2 separate regions of the Homo sapiens genome follow, and region 1 is linked to region 2. Evidence: fine-mapped expression QTL. A gene starts in region 2. The other region holds a variant in brackets. All regions are shown on one strand. Distances are from middle to middle.

The links. PIP is the estimated chance that this variant, and not a neighbour inherited with it, causes the effect.
Region 1: its variant is the best candidate, but not a certain one, in a credible set for the expression of LINC02995 in subcutaneous fat (TwinsUK, PIP 0.82).

Annotation. Positions count from the first base shown.
Region 1 is chr5:173,629,040-173,637,643 of GRCh38, reverse strand. No RefSeq gene overlaps it. Among named protein-coding and RNA genes, the nearest start is that of LINC01863, 9.0 kb to the left of the region's middle. RefSeq lists enhancers at 3,514-4,713, 8,562-8,604. The variant C/T (reference allele first, on the strand shown) is at 4,273.
Region 2 is chr5:173,575,291-173,583,967 of GRCh38, reverse strand. LINC02995 (long intergenic non-protein coding RNA 2995) reads right to left here and starts at 4,334. Exons shown (of 4, transcript NR_027108.2): 1 at 4,286-4,334; 2 at 3,593-3,739; 3 at 60-690.

The DNA.
Region 1 (8,604 bases), 54 kb before region 2:
TAAGATGCAGTGGTCTGGCTTGCCCTTTGAATGGGTCTTTTACCCATGCACGATTTGATAACATCACGTATTTTATTCATTTGGAAACTATTGCTTCGCTGCCTCCCCCGCAGATCTTTCAAATATTGACACATTTCATTATACAGTATCAAAAACCATATGCCTCCATATCACCACAGATCTCATGGGAGAAGCGTAATGGGAAGTTGCCACCCTCATAGTTGCAGATAAAATTTTCCAAACTTCTAATTTTCACTTAGCTTGAATTTTATCATTGGCAACAAGTACTGTTAATTGCTTTCTTTGAAGTGCCAGCCTCATTTTGTTACTTTTTGGGAAAACATCTGCCAGAAAACCTATCTAAATAACCATGGGTTGTGCTGTCTGTGTGTGTGTGTGTGTGTGTGTGTGTGTGTGTGTGAATTCTTTCAAGTAAAATGAGTGTTCCATGAAAAAAGTGGCTATTTCAGCTCAAACAATCACATGTGCTTCTCCTTGTCATTACCTTCAACCATTGTGCTTTGGTAGGCAGCCGGAGTGAGAAGTGCTTTATGCATACTTTCCATTTTTTCACACAGATTATTAAAAAGACATGCATTCAAGGGTTGAGAATTTTTTAATTAATAATTTTACTGCTTCATTTGGGAGGCCGAGGCATGTGGATCACTTGAGGTCAGGAGTTCAAGACCAGCCTGGCCAACATGGTGAAACCCTGTCTCTACTAAAAATACAAAAAAAAAAAAAATTAGCTGGGCATGGGTGGCACATGCCTGTAGTCCCAACTACTCAGGAGGCTGAGGCATGAGAATCACTTGAACCCGGGAAGCAGAGGTTGCCGTGAGCCGAGATTGGCCACTCCACAGTCAAGCCTGGGCGACAGAGTGAGACTCCATCTCAAAAAAAAAAACAAAAAATCAACAACAACAACAAAAAAACAAATTTTACTGCTTCATTAAGAGTATTTCTAAGTGAAACTGGCATGTGTTTTAATGCAAGTAGGTGATAAGAAGAATACAATGAGTACCTGTACACTTCGGGGCCACTCCCTTGATTCATACTAAGGTGTAAGCAGTTTTACCACCGCAGGTGTAAATGACAACACAATGAAAAAAGAAATAATATCCCGGAGTTATTATGAAAATAGTTTTCTTTTCTTCTTCTTCTTTTTTTTTTTTTTTTTTTTTTTTTTGAGACAGAGTCTAGCTCTGTCATCCGAGCTGGAGTGCAGTGGCGCGATCTCAGCTCACTGCAAGCTCCACCTCCCGGGTTCACACCATTCTCCTGCCTCAGCCTCCCCAGTAGCTGGGACTACAGGCGCCCGCCACCATGCCCGGCTAATTTTTTTGTATTTTTAGTAGAGACGGGGTTTCACCGTGTTAGCCAGGATGGTCTCGATCCTGACCTCGTGATCTGCCCGCCTCGGCCTCCCAAAGTGCTGGGATTACAGGCTTGAGCCACTGCACCCAGCCCCGAAAATAGTTTTCACTGTGAGGCCCTCTGAAAGGGTTTAGGAGGTCCTCCACGGTTCTGCAGACCACAGTAGGAGAACCATTTAAGTGAGGGGAGTGTAGCAGTCTCTGCACCTCCAGAAACTCCCAATCTGGCTGAGAAGAGAGACCATAAACAGACGTAATTACCATGTCATGTGATGAGGGCCAGTTGGAGCCATGGCAGATAGAGTGATTTGTTTTCCAATGCGGAAGTTAGCAAAGGTTTCACAGTGAATTTTTAAAATGGGTCTTGAGGATTGAGTAGGAGTTCATGCAGAAAGAAAGTGGATCTTTATATTTCTGGTTTCAGAAGGACAGGTCCTAGGAAGGCAAGGCACCAAAAAAATGAAAATAAACAGGACAGTTCATATGATTTTTTTTTTCTTTTGAGATGGAGTCTCATTCTGTCGCCCAGGCTGGAGTGCAGTGGCGTGATCTCTGCTCACTGCAACCTCTGTCTCCCAGGTTCAAGCGATTCTCCTGCCTCAGCCTCCTGAGTAGCTGGGATTACAGGCGCACGCCACCATGCCTAGCTAATTTTCATATTTATAGTAAAGATGAGGTTTCATCATGTTGGCCAGGTTGGTCTTGAACAACTGACTTCAAGTGATCTGTCCCCTTTGGCCTCCCAAAATGCTGAGATTACAGGTGTGAGTCACCTCACCCTGCCCATATGATTAATAAAGAAGAATATTGGCCGCCATCATGGAATACCTATTACATAACCTCACACTTTGCATACATTATATTTACCTCCAAAAACCTATGAAATGCATACAATTATTGTCTTTGTTCAGAGAAGTTAGGAAACTTCCTTAGGGACACAGAGCAAATCCATGAGGAAAATCAAGATTAAAATCAGAATTGGCTTACTCCAAAGCCCACTTTTGTTCTGTTTGCTTACTTCCCTAGAGGAAGCCAAGAGGAAGAGCAGCCTCCTGGGCCACCACTGCTCCAAACTTTAGCTGTCCCCTGATGTTGACCAAATCAAGCCTAGTTCCCCCGACTTGGCATTCAAGGCTTCCCAATGCAACTCCACCTCCCCTTTCTAGCCCCACCTGCTGTGAATTCCCAGTTTAGATACACTGGAATTCTTTCCTCTTACCCAGAGCTATGACCTCCACCAGGAGTCCCTTCCTCCTTTCTCCTTCCATCTTGATTTACTGCTTGAATCCAACCTATCTTTCCAGGCTTACACATCCCTCCTTTCCAATCCTCTCCCCACAATCCCTTTCCTCAGCATTGCTTTTCTGCACTGATGTCATGCATCAAGGTCTGTGCACCAGACTACAGGCTCTATGATGGCTGGGCCCACATGAATCTAAGAATATTATCTCTTGGTTCTTATTCTTGCTTTTTGAGCCTCGGTGTTCCCCTCTGTAAAATGGGGATACTAGCACCCTACCTCATGGGCTTGTGGTGATGATTGAATGCACTAAGGTGTGTGCTGAGAAAACCGCCTGACACATACTGAGTGCCCAATCAATGTGAGTCACTTTTGTTATTATCACAATAATTATTGTTGTTAAATATCACCAGGGGAGGACGAGCCTGTTCCTGCCCCACATCAGTTTCACAGCACACTTTCTCGTAATAAGGGCAGGCTCTGTTAGCACCATTCATTTCAAGCCTGTGAAGAAGCATGAAAATATATTCAGATGTATGTTCCTTTGGTTTGCCTGCAAATAGTTCTTGGTTTTTTTTGTGTTTGTTTTTGCTTTTGTTCTTCCACCCAGGCTGGAATGCAGTGGCTCGATCATAGCTCACTGCAGCCTCCACCTACCAGGCTCAAGCCATCCTTCTACCTCAGCCTCCCAAGTAGCTAGGACCACAGACGCGTGCCACCACAGCTGAGTAAGTTTTTGTATTTTGGGTAGAGAAGGGACTTTGCCATGTTGCCCAGCCCAGGCTGGTCTTGAACTCCTGAGCTCAAGTGATTTGCCTGCCTCGGCCTCCCGAAGTGTTAGGATCACAGGTGTGAGCCACAGCACCCAGTCATGCCTGCAAATAGTTCTATTCCTGGGGGCTTATTTTAGTCGGGTCCCTCTGTTGTGTCCCTAACGAACCCTCCGGACCTGAGAAATGTGGAAATGCCTGAACCAGGCCCTATAGCCAGGTTCTGGGGACAGCTCAGGGCACATGGAGCCCTGATCAAGAATGCAGCGGTGTTGCCATCCTATCAGCTGAGTATCCTTCCGTTTTCAACTTCACACACCCACCCTCCATGGGCTGCTTGGATGAGGTAGCCCATTCAGTCCTGCCGGGCACCCGAAAACAGAAAGATAATCGGCACATTAAACTTTTATCTCCATGGCTGTCACTCTAATAAGCAGACGAGGAAAGCTCCTCTGTCCCCAGGCTCTGACCTGCCTGAAGCAGGCTGATGGGTTGTTGCCAGTGTGCTGGGTTGCTGGGTTTGCTTTTAAGGTTAGCGAACAAAGCACCCCAGAATGCCAGCTGCCCCGGGTTTGGTTACTATGCTCTTGATCCGCGATGAGCTCTTGGCAGTGTGTGGATTCTAGGGAGGACCGGATGTGGTGAGTGGCCTCCAAAGGGCAATTCAAGAAGATCAATCCCATGGAGGCGCCCAGCTCCTGTTTCCAAACACGCTTCCTGGCCTGCAGATACCTTGACGGCAAACTTCATGTAAAGACTTGGTAGAGATGATTCAGCGTTTCCAACATGTTTCATCATCTTTCTAAGGTTGGTACAAAGCTCTAGCCCTATACTGATGCCACCAAGGGGCACCATATCTGTGACCTTGACTAAGCCAAGGTCACCA[C/T]GGCAGTGATGCCAGCACCTTCTACACGCCACCAATGGGTTCAACATTTCACATGCATTGCTAGTTTCATGCTGAGCACAGCCCTCCGTGGAGGGGGGGCTCTGGATATTTGTTTTACAGATGAGGAGACTGCAGCTCAGAGAGGACAGTTCACTTGTTCATAATATACCTCTTCTGGAACCAGAAACAGAGACCAAGCCCACGGTGAACAGATTCCAGAGTGTGAATTCTTTCATCTTCTGTGTCCCCTGAAGGTTTTATTTGCCATCGTGCTTAGCTGAAAAGAGCTGAGAAAAAGTTAGAGCTAATATTTTGGGAGCATCTCTATCTGCACCTTACTGCTTACCCAGGCATTGCCTTGTTGAATCCTAACAGCAGTCCTGTGAAGTAGGATTATCACCCCCAATTTTCAGGAGCAAACTTGGACGCCTCGCTCAACTTGTCGATTGAATCTCCTAAGTCGATTGAATCTCCTAAGTCCACGAATCTTGAGCGGAGCGGGGATCCAGGCTCAGGTCAGCATCCATGGCCTTCTGCCACATGCACTGTTTTGCTGTTGTGCCTAGGACATTTGCTTCTCCCTGGAGTGCTGAGGTCCCACATAATGAGCAAGATTGAGAGGAAAGGGAAGAAGAAAGGGCCGATACCAAAACCAGCTCAGGGTAGGGGACTGCAATAAAGGGGAAGAAGAGCAGGACATGAAAAGGCTGGTCCCTTCCCCATGGGAACAGGGAATTAGGGGAGAGAGTTTGGTACTATGATCATGACTGTTCTCCCTTCATCAGAATTAGAAGTACCTAGCCCTCCAATTCTAGATCTTCCCAAATTTCAGAACTTTGTTAAAGATGAACATTGTCAGGCTGGGTGCGGTGGCTCATGCCTGTAATCCCAACACTCTGGAAGGCCGAGGCAGGCAGATCACAAGATCAGGAGTTCGAGACCAGCCTGGCCAACATGGTGAAACCCCATCTCGACTAAAAATACAAAAATTAGCTAGGCGTGGTGTCAGGCGCCTGTAATCCCAGCTACTTGGGAGGCTGAGGCAGGAGAATCTCTTGAACCCGAGAGGCAGAGGTTGCAGTGAGCTGAGATCACGCCACTGCACTCCAGCCTGGGCGACAGAGTGAGACTCTGTCTCAAAAAAAAAAAAAAAAAAAAAGATGAACATTGTCTGTGGAGCCTCCCTCCAGCCCATACTGAGCCTGATCTCTGCCAGCATTTAGAGCCTGTGCTTCAATCACTCACAGCGTGTACTGTGGTCTGTCTCAGGTGTCTTGGGGTAGAAAATTCCCATTCGATAGGCGGTCTCCATTGAGATAGGAAGTTGCTAAGAGGGAGGACATTGTCCTACTCATTCCTTTCTTGTTCCTCACAGAACTCAGAAGACTAGTGAAAATAGATATGGGCCCAAATAAATACTTGTATTGTATTGTACTTGTATTGTACAAAAAACTGTTCCCATTTTATACAGAAAAACAGAGGCAATGGCAACTCCTATCAATTAGGTCAGTGGCTCTGGGCTTATCCGATTTTCCTTTAACATCAAATCTCCTGATCACTACTAAATCACAAATCAAAAGCCAAGTAAATCTGGATTGATTTTAAAAGGAGGAGAAGGCAGAGAGAAAGAGAGGGAGGAAGGAGAGAGAAGGAATGAAGAGGAAGATGAGGTGGGAGGAAGGGGAGGAAGAAGAATAGGAGGAGGGAAGAGTTGCGGTGAGGGATGAGGAAGAGAGTGGAGAAGATGAGGACTGGGAGGAGGAGAGGGGAGGAGGAAGATGGGGAAGAGATCGTGAGATGGAAGAGGAAGAAGGAGGAGATAAGGAGGAGGGGGGTAGGAGATGAGGAGGAGGGGGTAGGAGATGAGGAGGAGGGGGGTAGGAGATGAGGAGGAGGGGGTAGGAGATGAGGAGGAGGGGGATAGGAGATGAGGAGGAGGAGGGGGGTAGGAGATGAGGAGGAGAAGGGGGGTAGGATATGAGGAGGAGAAGGGGGGTAGGAGATGAGGAGGAGAAGGGGGGTAGGAGATGAGGAGGAGGAGGGGGGTAGGAGATGAGGAGGAGAAGGGGGGTAGGAGATGAGGAGGAGGAGGGGGGTAGGAGATGAAGGGAGGGAGGAGGGAGGACTTGAGGAGAAAAAGAAGGGGGCAGTGGGGGAGAGGAGGAGAGGAAGGAGAGGAGGATTTTGCTCTGGAATGGGGCACAGCTTAAAACTGAAAGTGGGTACAAAATCGGATTGGAGACAGAAATAGCACTCTTTTCTCCAACATGAATTCTATGTTTCCTAATCTAAAAAGGGATTGTTCTGCCACGCAAACCTCCTCTTCTGTGCCTGCCTCACCATGATGCAGGTATATTGACTTCATCAAATGCGGAAGCCTAACTCGCTGTAGAATGAACTACATCAGAAACTCTGCCAGGTTAATCTTGACAGAAATCTGGCGACAAGGTCAAATCTTGAAGCAAAACAAAACAGACAGCCCAGGAATGTGCAGCCCAGCCATCCCTCACTTGGCACAGTGCAGGCAGTCACTGTGAGGGGCTTCCGGTGTGTGGGTGGGAGTGCTTTACTTCCAGGCAATGCCAAACAAGCAGGGTGCTTATCCTTGGGCCCCCAGTGCCCACCACAGTGCCTGACACAGAAGAAGCTCCACAAACATGTCATCTGTTCTCATTTTTGTGTTTACAAACACAGTAAACAGACCACTACATTTAACAACTTTCGTTATGTCAAGATTCGCCAACGAGTCTCAATACTAGCCAGACAGACTTTCTCCACAACATCGTTTTCATATTGATTTATTTTGGCAGTTATTGTTAATAATGAATTTCATATATGATACAGGCATTCTGGGAATGCATCAGTGCCCTTCAAAATGGTGTTTTATGATTCTGATCTTAGCTGAGCCATTCATCTCTGTACCGTCGGATCCAGTTTGGCCACTCCTGGATCTGGAACATAAGCCCCATGCTTTGTTTCTGTCTTTTCTGTCACTTGTCATGGTTTAGAATTATGTATTTGTAGGTTGATTTGTTCTGTGTCTGTTCACCCCCCTAGAAATACAGATGTCCATGAGGGCCAGAATCATTTCTGCTTTGGGCGCCACAGAGTCCTCCATCTTTAGTATATAACCCTGTGCTGATATAATGTATGGCACATCATAGAAGCTTGACAAACATTTACTGAGTGAATGTATGAGGCTGGATTCAATGCCTCTTAACTTCTTAGCTCCCTTTCAATGGGGAGAATCTCAAGCTCCATAACACAGGGAGCTCTTGGCTGTCTGACCCCAAGGGTGCAGTGCTTTGTGAACTGGCTGGTCATGCTATCACAGTCTTAGGACTCCAGATTCCACCCCTAGGGTGGCTGCAGGGCCTATGGCACAGCTTGGACCAGGGGCATCTTGGCTGAGAGGGTGGACTCAGCCTGGGGGGATGGAGGACCGGCCCACCATGGAGCTCTCCTGATACTGCCCCCATCAGGCCAAGCCTGGGAAGAGCATCTCTGACTCCAGTAGGTCCCTGGCTGCTATAGCAGCATGTGCTCCATGCCAGGGCAGGTGTGTGGGGAGCAGCAGGGGGTCTACTCCTCCATGCAGGGGTAACCCTGAGGTTGGGGGAGACATGCACTTCTGAGAAGGTGGGCCACACATAATAATGCTGAGTTAGGTATTGCTGCATCACTGTTCTGCAAGACCTGCCCTGTCATGCAGAGTTGCAGCATGTGCAAGGCAAAGAGGGGGCCAGATCCAGCCTCCAAGGAGAGGTTGGTGAGAGCCAGTGACACCCAGCACACATTCTGGGCTCCAGCCCCAATCCTCCAGGCCGACTTCCTGCTTTTCCTGTTCCCAACACTGTGAAATAACCTCTCCAGTGGCTCCCCAGAATTCTTAGAATGCAACCTGAACTCCCGCAAGGCCTCCCCCTGCAGCCATCCTCGTCCCCGCTGCCCCTCGGTCAGGCCAGGCTTGTTCCCATCTCCAAGCCTTTGCTATTGTTCCCTACCTTGGGACCCTCTTCCTGCCTTGTAGGTCTAAGTGTACCCAGCTCCTTCTTGTTATTTAGGTCTTAGCTCAAATGTCACCTCCCAAGAGAGGCCTCCTCTGATCATCAACTTATCTGCACCCAAAATGATTTTGATCTTGATTTTGCATGTTTGCTTTTTTGTTTGTTGCTTGCTTGCTGGCTAAGCTCCAAGTACTGAAACTGTGCTACCTTTTACTTACTCTTCTTGCCCTACCCCCTAGCACAGGGTAGCACGTGGAAGGCATTAGATAAGTATTTGTATGAATGAGTGAGTGAGTGAAGGCTCAGTTAAATAGCGAGGGCCAAC
Region 2 (8,677 bases):
TTCTGGACTGCACAGTACCCTACAGAATCCTAGGGGCCATCAGAGCAGCTGCAGGTCACCTTGTGGAAAAGTGCAAAATACAGTTTAGACATTTGGAATTTGGCTTCCTGGCAGCCTGGCTGGAAGGTGTTGGTTCCACAGGGCCAAGGCTGGCTGTGCCTGCCTCCCTCTGGGTCCTGGAAGCTGAGGGAGGTGGACCAGCCTCCAGCTCCCAGGTTCTTATGCTCCTCCTATTTATCTCTCAGTCCTTTCCTGGCAGCCAGAGAGTCCATCTTTAGCGGGGACCTGTACAGTATTGTTTTAATCTTCAGCTCTCTCTGCTTCCTCTCTGTTCCCTTCCTCCCTTCCTCTTCTCCTTGTCTACCACACAGAACAGATGTGGAAAAAGCCAGGCCTTTAGGAACATCTGCTGAGACACCAGCTGCCTTCCTCCTGGGCTAAGGAAACTGTGACCCCTCTGATTATTGGGTTTCATCCAAGGACCTCAGTTCTCTGGCCAGAATATTTGCATCGAAGTCAGCAAGGTCTTCTAGCTATTTAAGAGAATTTGCTAAATCCCTGAAGATCTGTACATATAGAAGGAAGGGAGAGATGCTATTTTTTAAACATTGGCTGCAGTTGGAGCTGGCTGGCCCAGAAGTGCAGAATTCCCAATGCTTCCCAAGGAGCATGCATCACTCTCGGAAATACCTGGACACATAGGAGAGGTATAGGAAAAATGAGTTGAGTTGTTCTGATTAAGAAAGGAACTGCAATTTGGAACTTGATCAGCAGCTGCATGCTGACTGCTAGAGGAAGAAGGGTTTGTTTCTGTTTTTGTTTCTTTGTTTTTTTGGGAGGGGACAAAGTGATTTCTGAAAGAGAATGAGAGGGCCTAGAAGTAAAAATGAGGCAGAGGGAATTGGAGGAGGAAATGGCCAGTGATAAATTCCTCCTAGCAGGAGTTCCCCGCCCAGATGGGGACTTCAGTGTAGAATCATTTACTTTGGGGATGACACCTCTTGTTAACTGCAGACCTGCAGGAAACATCTGCTAAACTTGACAGCTGTGAGCTGCTGGTGGTCATTGAAAGACCAGCATTAAGTTGACAGGCAGAAAGAAAACACAGTCCCGGGGGAAGAAAGGAATGAGATGGGAGTGCTCAGTGTGAACAGGAAATCAGAGCCAGGGATGACCAGTAAAATATAAGCCCTGGGGGAATCTAGAAACATCTTGGAAAGGGCCCAAGGCTTTTCCATAACATGTGGACTGGGAGGCTCTCGGGAAGGACCCCAGACTGGTGAACTTGGGAATATGCAAGCTGAAGGCATCTGGGATACACGAGTGGGTGCACACACGCACATGCGCACACACGCACATGCACACTCACACGCACACATGCACACACTGCAGATCCCCTAGAGTAGTGGTCCTCAACCTTGGCTGCACATTTGAATTGCCTGGGGCTTTAAAAAATGCCAGAGCCTACCCTCACCCCAATGCCACCAAACCAATGACATCAGAATCTGTGGGAATCAGACCCACACGTCAGGTTTTCAAAGCTCCCAGGGCTGAGCAGCATTGTTCTACAGCCTGACAGCTCCAGCTGCCTGGAGAGCAGATGCCATTTACAGTCTCCTGCAACCAAAGACTCGCCTGAACCATCGTGCCCTTCCATCACACACCATACCCAGGCCTTCTCCCTTCCTTTCTCACCACCTCCCCTACCCGCTTCCCAACAGATCTCCTCCCACAGTCACAAGATAAGACACAGGCGCCCAGTGGAATTTAAGCCTGAGAGAAACCACAAATAATTTTGTTTAATATAAGTATGAGTTGTGTAAAATTAGTAGATGTCATGCAACATACTCATACTAAAAGTTATTTGTGATTTCTCTAAAATTCAAATTTAACCAGGCATCCTGTGTTTTTAGTTGCTAAATCTGACAATCCTAGATAGAGACAACTTAAAAACAAATAGAGAGTGTCCTTCCTCGACAAGGGACAGAGATCTGGTACCACCACTAGCACTAGACCCAGAGTCAAAGCCCAGGGCTCCTGGGCTGAGGCCCCTGGGAGAATCAGCAAAGCTTTTCGCCTTCCCCACACGTGCTGTGGGCGCGCAGTACTGCAAGTTATCACCACCAGAGGGCGCACTCTGAGTAGGCGGGAGGAGCCCGCAGGGACAAGACCCCAATCCACAGATGCTTAGAGAGACAGTGAGGGCGCAATCCCCAAAGGAGCATTAGTGTTCAACTGGTGGGGTCCAGGGACATTTCTTCCTCTTCTAAACTAAATGATCCCGAAGACACCTGAGATTCAATGAGAGAGAAGGGTGAGCCCGGGGTAGAATGGTAAGACTCAAAACCTGGCAGGTTTCTTTTACAGTGATTTATTGCTTTGATTTTTAAAAATTGCACAAATAAAATAGACCATTCAGAATTAAACGTGGAAGTCCTCCTTTTAATGTCCCCATTCACCTGCCTCGCATGTGTGTCATGGATCTTCCTAGATCTACTTCTACGCACGTGAGTGCGTGTGTGTGTGTGTGAGTGTGTCTGTGTGAGTGTGTGTGTATGTGTGTGTAATATGGGTTTGTTGGTTAAATTCTTTACACAAATCCCATCAGAATATGTATGTAGATAATTTCTAGAAATTTCTTTTTTCATCTAATAGATTTTGAGGAGGATCACTCTGTGACATAGGCAATATTAATTTCATTTACTCTTCACAATGACCCTATGAGGTAGGGGCTAGTGTTATCGTCCGTTATACAGATGGAGAAACTGTGACACAGAAAGGCTAAGTGAGTTGCACAAGATCACACAGCAAGTAAGTGGCAAAGCTGGGATTGAAACCTAGGCTATCTGGCTTTGGAGCACGAATGCTTAATCACTCTTCTGCAATACTTGGCTTTAACCACTGCATCACAGTCTAGCCTAGAGATGGACCATAGTATATTTATAACCACTGCCCTTTTGATCCATATGCAGGCTGTGTCCAGGGTTCCACTAGTATAAAAAAGGATGCAGAGAAGAGCTTTGTGCAGCAGCCAGAGGGGTTCTTGCAGGGTAGTGGCCCAGCTGTGGAGTATGCACAGGTTACATTCCAATAAATACTGTTAGATTTTATTCCCAAGAGGTTGAAACTTTCCCATTCCCAGCAGTTGTGTTAGTGTGCCCATCCCCCTTGGTGCCATCGAGGGCATGCAGGCAGAAGGAACAGCCTGTGGAGAGGGGCGTGGATATGGTTTGGGGAATGGCAAGAAGTCCAGTGAGGCTGAAGGTTGGGTTGTAGTTGCTGGTTGCGAATGTAATCTATTTTATGCTCTGCAAATTTGATACACGATACCACGATATTTCATTGTAGTTTTTGTTTGCATTTCCCCAATTACCAGGAAGCAATATCATCTTTTTGTGTGTTTATGAGCCATTTGTGTTTTTTCTTCTGTAAACTTTATGTTCATATTTTTACACTTTCCCAATGGGATGTTTATCTTCTTGGTTTGTAGGTGCTCTAGTATTATGGGATGTTAGTCTTTTGTCAGTTACATTTGCACGAATATTATCTCATGGCGTGTTGCTCTTACAAACTCAAGTTTTTAGATAGTAACCTGGATTGTCAAATGCGACAAGACGGTTTCTCAGTCACAGCTGTGGAATGTGTAACGAGACAACCTCTCTGAAGGGCAGCTTGGTAATAGATACCAAATGTGCTTTAAATCGTGTACACTTGCTGATGCTGGTATTCTATATCCATCCTAAGGAAAGATCAGGGATAAAGACAGCAAGTTAGCTCTGAAGATGGTCATTCCAGTTTTGTTAATGATGTAACAATTTGAGAACCTTTACATGTCCAGTAATAGCGCATTGGAAAAATCAATTACATCTTAATCACTGGCAGGAATATAATGTTACCATGAAAAAAGATGCAATAAAACTGTGTTTTTGACTGTACTAGTAAATGAAAAAATTGATAGCATGAAAGATTTTGTCCAGTATTATTCCATTTTTGTAAAAATGTTTAAAGTTCAGGCTGATAAGATATACCCCAAAATGTTGATAATGATTTTTCTCTGCATGGAGCTATTATGGGGTAATCTTTACTGTCTTATTTTTGCTACTCTAAATTTTTTTTAAATTTCTACAAATAATATTAATTACTTTTATAATAAATATATATTTTTAAAATTATACATACATATATATATACACACACGTATGCATATATTTATACCTAATTTTTTCTTTTGACTATTGGTGGTAGACAGCTCCCAGATGATCCACAGGCCCTCAGTGAAACTTACCTCCTGTTATTCATGCTTTTGTGTCCTCTTTTCTCAAACTGAATCAGAGCTGGTCAGTGTTACCAGTAGAATACTGCAGAAGTGATGGTGTGTCACATCCAAGGCTAAGTCATAAGGGCATTGTGACTTCAACCTTTGCTCTTGGATCACTTGCCCTGGGGAAGCAGCTACCATGTTGTGAGGCTGCTCAAGTAGCCTTGTGGAGAGGTCCACCTGGAGAGAAAACAAGGCCTTTGCCGCAGCCGGCACCAACTTGCCAACCATCTGAGTCAGCCACCTTGGAAGTGGATCCTCCAGCCTCATTCCAGCCTTCAGATGACCACTGTCCCAGCTCATATCTAGACTGCAACCTCATGAGAGACCTGGAGCCAGAACACCCAGCTAAGCTGTTCCTGAATTCCCGACTCACAGAGACTGTGAAAGATAATATATGTTTGTGTCTGTTTTAAGTCACTAAGTTTTGGCTGTTGCCTAACAGTAGATAGCTGATATAAAGCTTAGTACCAGAAGTGGGGTGCTGATGGAACATAAACCTACCAATGTGGGAGCGTCTTTGGAACTGAGCAGAGGGCAGAAGCTGAAAGGACTTTGAAGAAAGTGTCAGAGAAAGCCTAAAGGGCACTGGAGAAGCCAGTAGTGGGAGGAGAATGTTGGTGAGGGTTTATAGGAAAGTGAGAACAATGCATTAGAGACTGGAAGAAAGGTGATTCTTGTTATGGAGAGGCAGAAATTAAGCAACACTGCAACAAGATGGAAAGCTCATAAATTGAATGATCTAGCTAAGGAGACTTTTAGGCAAGCCCAGATATTGGGCTCTTCCACTAAGAGTATCTTGCTACAAATATAAAAGAACCAGAAAATGCAGCCCTGCCCTTGGCCTTGGCCTCTGGGCGCCATCTCACTCAGTAGCATGAACTGTGCCCACTGGCCTCCTTGCAAGTGACTGATGCAGAAGGTGGAGAGTTGTCATGCTTGCTGGTTCCCAGGATGGTTCTCAGAAAGCTTGGAACTGAGGTGGAATCATGTTCGTGTTCCTCCCAGAGTATAGAGCAGTTAGACTCTCGGTACATTTCTGGAGAGAGATGGGGGTGAAGAGTGCTCAAGGGAAGAATTGAATCAATGCTCCCAGCACTCCACCCTGCCCATGGGAAGTCAGGTTGCACAGAGGCTAACCTGAAAACTCAGTCACAATGCTCCCTGGATCTGATCATATTTAGGGTATACTTTGGGGTGCCTGGGCCCCTCAGCAGGTGGGTCTGGACAGAGGCTGCACACTGCAGGTTCCTCCCATGTTTTTCTTCCTAAGGATGGAACCACTCACATGCATGATACTCACACACATGACACTCACACGCATGCCGTCTCTCCTTGGGATACCTGACGGTCTGAGCTTTAAAGTAATTTACCTTTATTTACCTGTAATGAACATTCGTCCCGCTTTCTTCTTGTCCAGTGCTTCAAACATCTTTTCTTTGGGGAGCTCCTGCCTCCTCAGTCCCTGACTGTCTAGAGGAGCCAGAAACTCTATTTCTCAGACAGGAGGGTGCAGGCATGTGACCAAACTCACCATACAGATGTACCTGCACCAGACTCAGATTCAGAGCCAGGGGCTCCAGGACGAAGCAAGGTCCCATGGGCTCCACCCTGGCGGGGAGGCGACATTGGAAGCCCCTTTGCAGTTGCCCTACTCAGGGCAGGCTGCCGTGTTGTTTCCTGGAGCTGCTCTGCAGTAGGTGGCACGTTTGGGCCATATTCTAGAGCCCAGTTCCCAGGTCATTCAAAAGATGCTGGGGCCCCCAAGTAGCCAGTGATAAATCCCATTTCTGCTTAAACTCAATACAAGTGGTTTCTGTTGTTTGCAACCAAGCCTGCCTGAGGCCTTCTACTGGCGCTGCACCTTTGCAAGGGAGACATTTGGTGTGATATATAACAGCAACTTTGGGACGAATTCCACTCTACCAGACACAGCTGGGAGCAGAACAATCCCAGATACCTCTTCGGGTAAATGGACCCCTAACTAGGGAAATGCATTTTTTAATGTGCTTTTTAAATCACTTGGAATGCCCTGACCTCCCCACCTCCTCCTCTGTCCCACTCGGGTCCACCCTCCACATCACGGCCAGTGTGATCTTTCTCCACAATGATCTGGTGGTGCTACTCCCCATGTGACACCTGCGCTGGGTGTCTCTGTCCCCACCCCATCTTCCTCCTCCCTGCTGTGCCCACCCAGCCATGCCATGGGGACAATCACTCTTGCTCTCTGGCTTCAAGTGGGGTTTGGCCAATGGGAGCATGGGCAGGCCCTCACAGGGCAGGAAGAATGGACTTGGACATCTGTTACCCCCGGTCCTTCCCTGCCAGGTTACCACAGGTAGGCTGTGTCCCTTTACTGCAGACTCATATGTGCTTCTCCACACAGCCACCCTCTCTGGGTTCTGATAGCCACTCCCTGGCCTCCTCTCTTCGGGTCTAGGGGTAGGCACAGCTCCCCAAAGAGACAGTAGCACCTCACAGCTGTGTCAGTCCCAGGCATGCTCCATGCTCTGCTGGCTTCCCTAACCCCGTCCACCCCTTTGCAGACAGCGTCTTTATCAACCCACACTTCAGTTACCCATCTTAGTGTGTCATCTGTGTCCTGTTAGGGCCCTGGCTGAGACAACAGCCTTCACTCAATGTTTAGGTTTTGTGCAAGACGCAATTCCTTCAGGACTAAGCTGAGATTTCAAGACCCTATGAGATCTGGCCCCTGCCAGCCTTTCCTGCTCATCTGTCCTTCCCTGACTATGCCAGGCTTTCTCCCTCCCTGCCTTTGCCACTCCACCAAGGCCCTCACCCAGGAGCACCCTCACTCTTCTGGCCTGCCGCTGCAGAGATGTCTGCTCTAGGCAGCTGTGCAGGCCAACTAATGCCCACCACAAAATGTCCATGTCCCAATCCCTGGAACTCAGGAATGCTACCTTCTATGACAAAAGGAACTTTGCAGGTGTGGGTAAGGATGTGGAGATGGCAAGAGTGTCCTAGATTATCCAGATGGGCCTTAAATGTCATCACAAGTGTCCATAATGAGGGAGGCTGACGGGCATTTGAGTGCAGCAGGGAAGGCCGTGTGATGTTGGGTGCAGAGGTTGCAGGGGTGCATTTTGAAGAAGGAGAAGGGGGCTGCAGGCAAGGATGCAGGCAGCCTCCCAAAGCTGAACAGGGCCAGGAAGCGATTCTCCCCTGGAGCCTCCGGAAAAGACCAGCTCAGATGACACCTATAGCCAGGGAAACTGATTTCACACTTAACGACCTTCAGTGTCATAAGAGAATACATTTATGTTGTTTTAAGCCACTAAGGTAGTGGTAATCTGTTACAACAGCCATGAGAAACTAATCAGATGCCTTTCCCAATCCCAGACTGGGCAGGCGGACCCCTCTGAGTTTCTGCCACCCGTACTCACTCTGAGTGGCACCTGTCAATCCGTATCAGACCTGCAGTTTACCTGTTGATCTTGCCACCAGATCCCGAGGCAGGGGTTGTGCCTTTTCATGTCTGTTTCACCAGCACCTGCAGAGAGCCCAGCACGCGGTGTGGCATAAATGAAAAGTTGAAGGACAAATTGCATACTTGGCATTGTCACTCACCAACTGAAATTCCACAAAGCAGGGATGCTTACTTATGATTTTCAGGAATCTAATAAACTCTTCCTGGTGACCCATCAGACACCAAAGTGGGCTCCTTGGACACTGGTTGTCGGTTTTCTACGATGCTCCACTGGGACTGAGTCAGAGCTGGACTCCTGTCCTCCTGTGACTGAATTAATTCCTCTGATACAGCCCCCATCCTCAGGGTCCCAGGGAGTGTGAATTTTGGGAAGTGTCTCATATAGCATGGAAAGTGGAGCAAAGGGCCTGGGCATGTGCACGCCACCGCTTTCTTTTCTCTCTGCCCCATTTTCTCCTTTCTATCCCCGCCCCCCCCCGCCCCGACATTCAGGGACAGGGACTGCAGCTTTGTCCCTGCCCAGAGCTCCCCTATCACGCGCTGGCTGAGGCTGCAGGGTGTGCAGCCTTCTCTGCACGCTTTGCCCTCTCGGTCCCAGCATGGGGACTGGGCAGGAGGCCCACAGCTGCTCAAGGGGCTGGGGGAAACTCACACAGCGGCTCTTCCGCCCTCCCTGCACTCCTTTTCTGAACACCTCTCCTGCCCATCCCCCCTCTCCTGTCATGAGAGTGCCCAGTTCTGCCACCCCACTCAACTCCAGAGACCTCAGCCAACACTTCCACCAAGAATGGGGTTGGGACCTGCAGGGCTACCCCTTAAGGCCCTCTGGTCCAGCCTCCACACCCATAGGTCACCAGAGGACTTAACGGCTTCAACCACTCCCCACCGCAGGGCTCCTCACTGAGCTT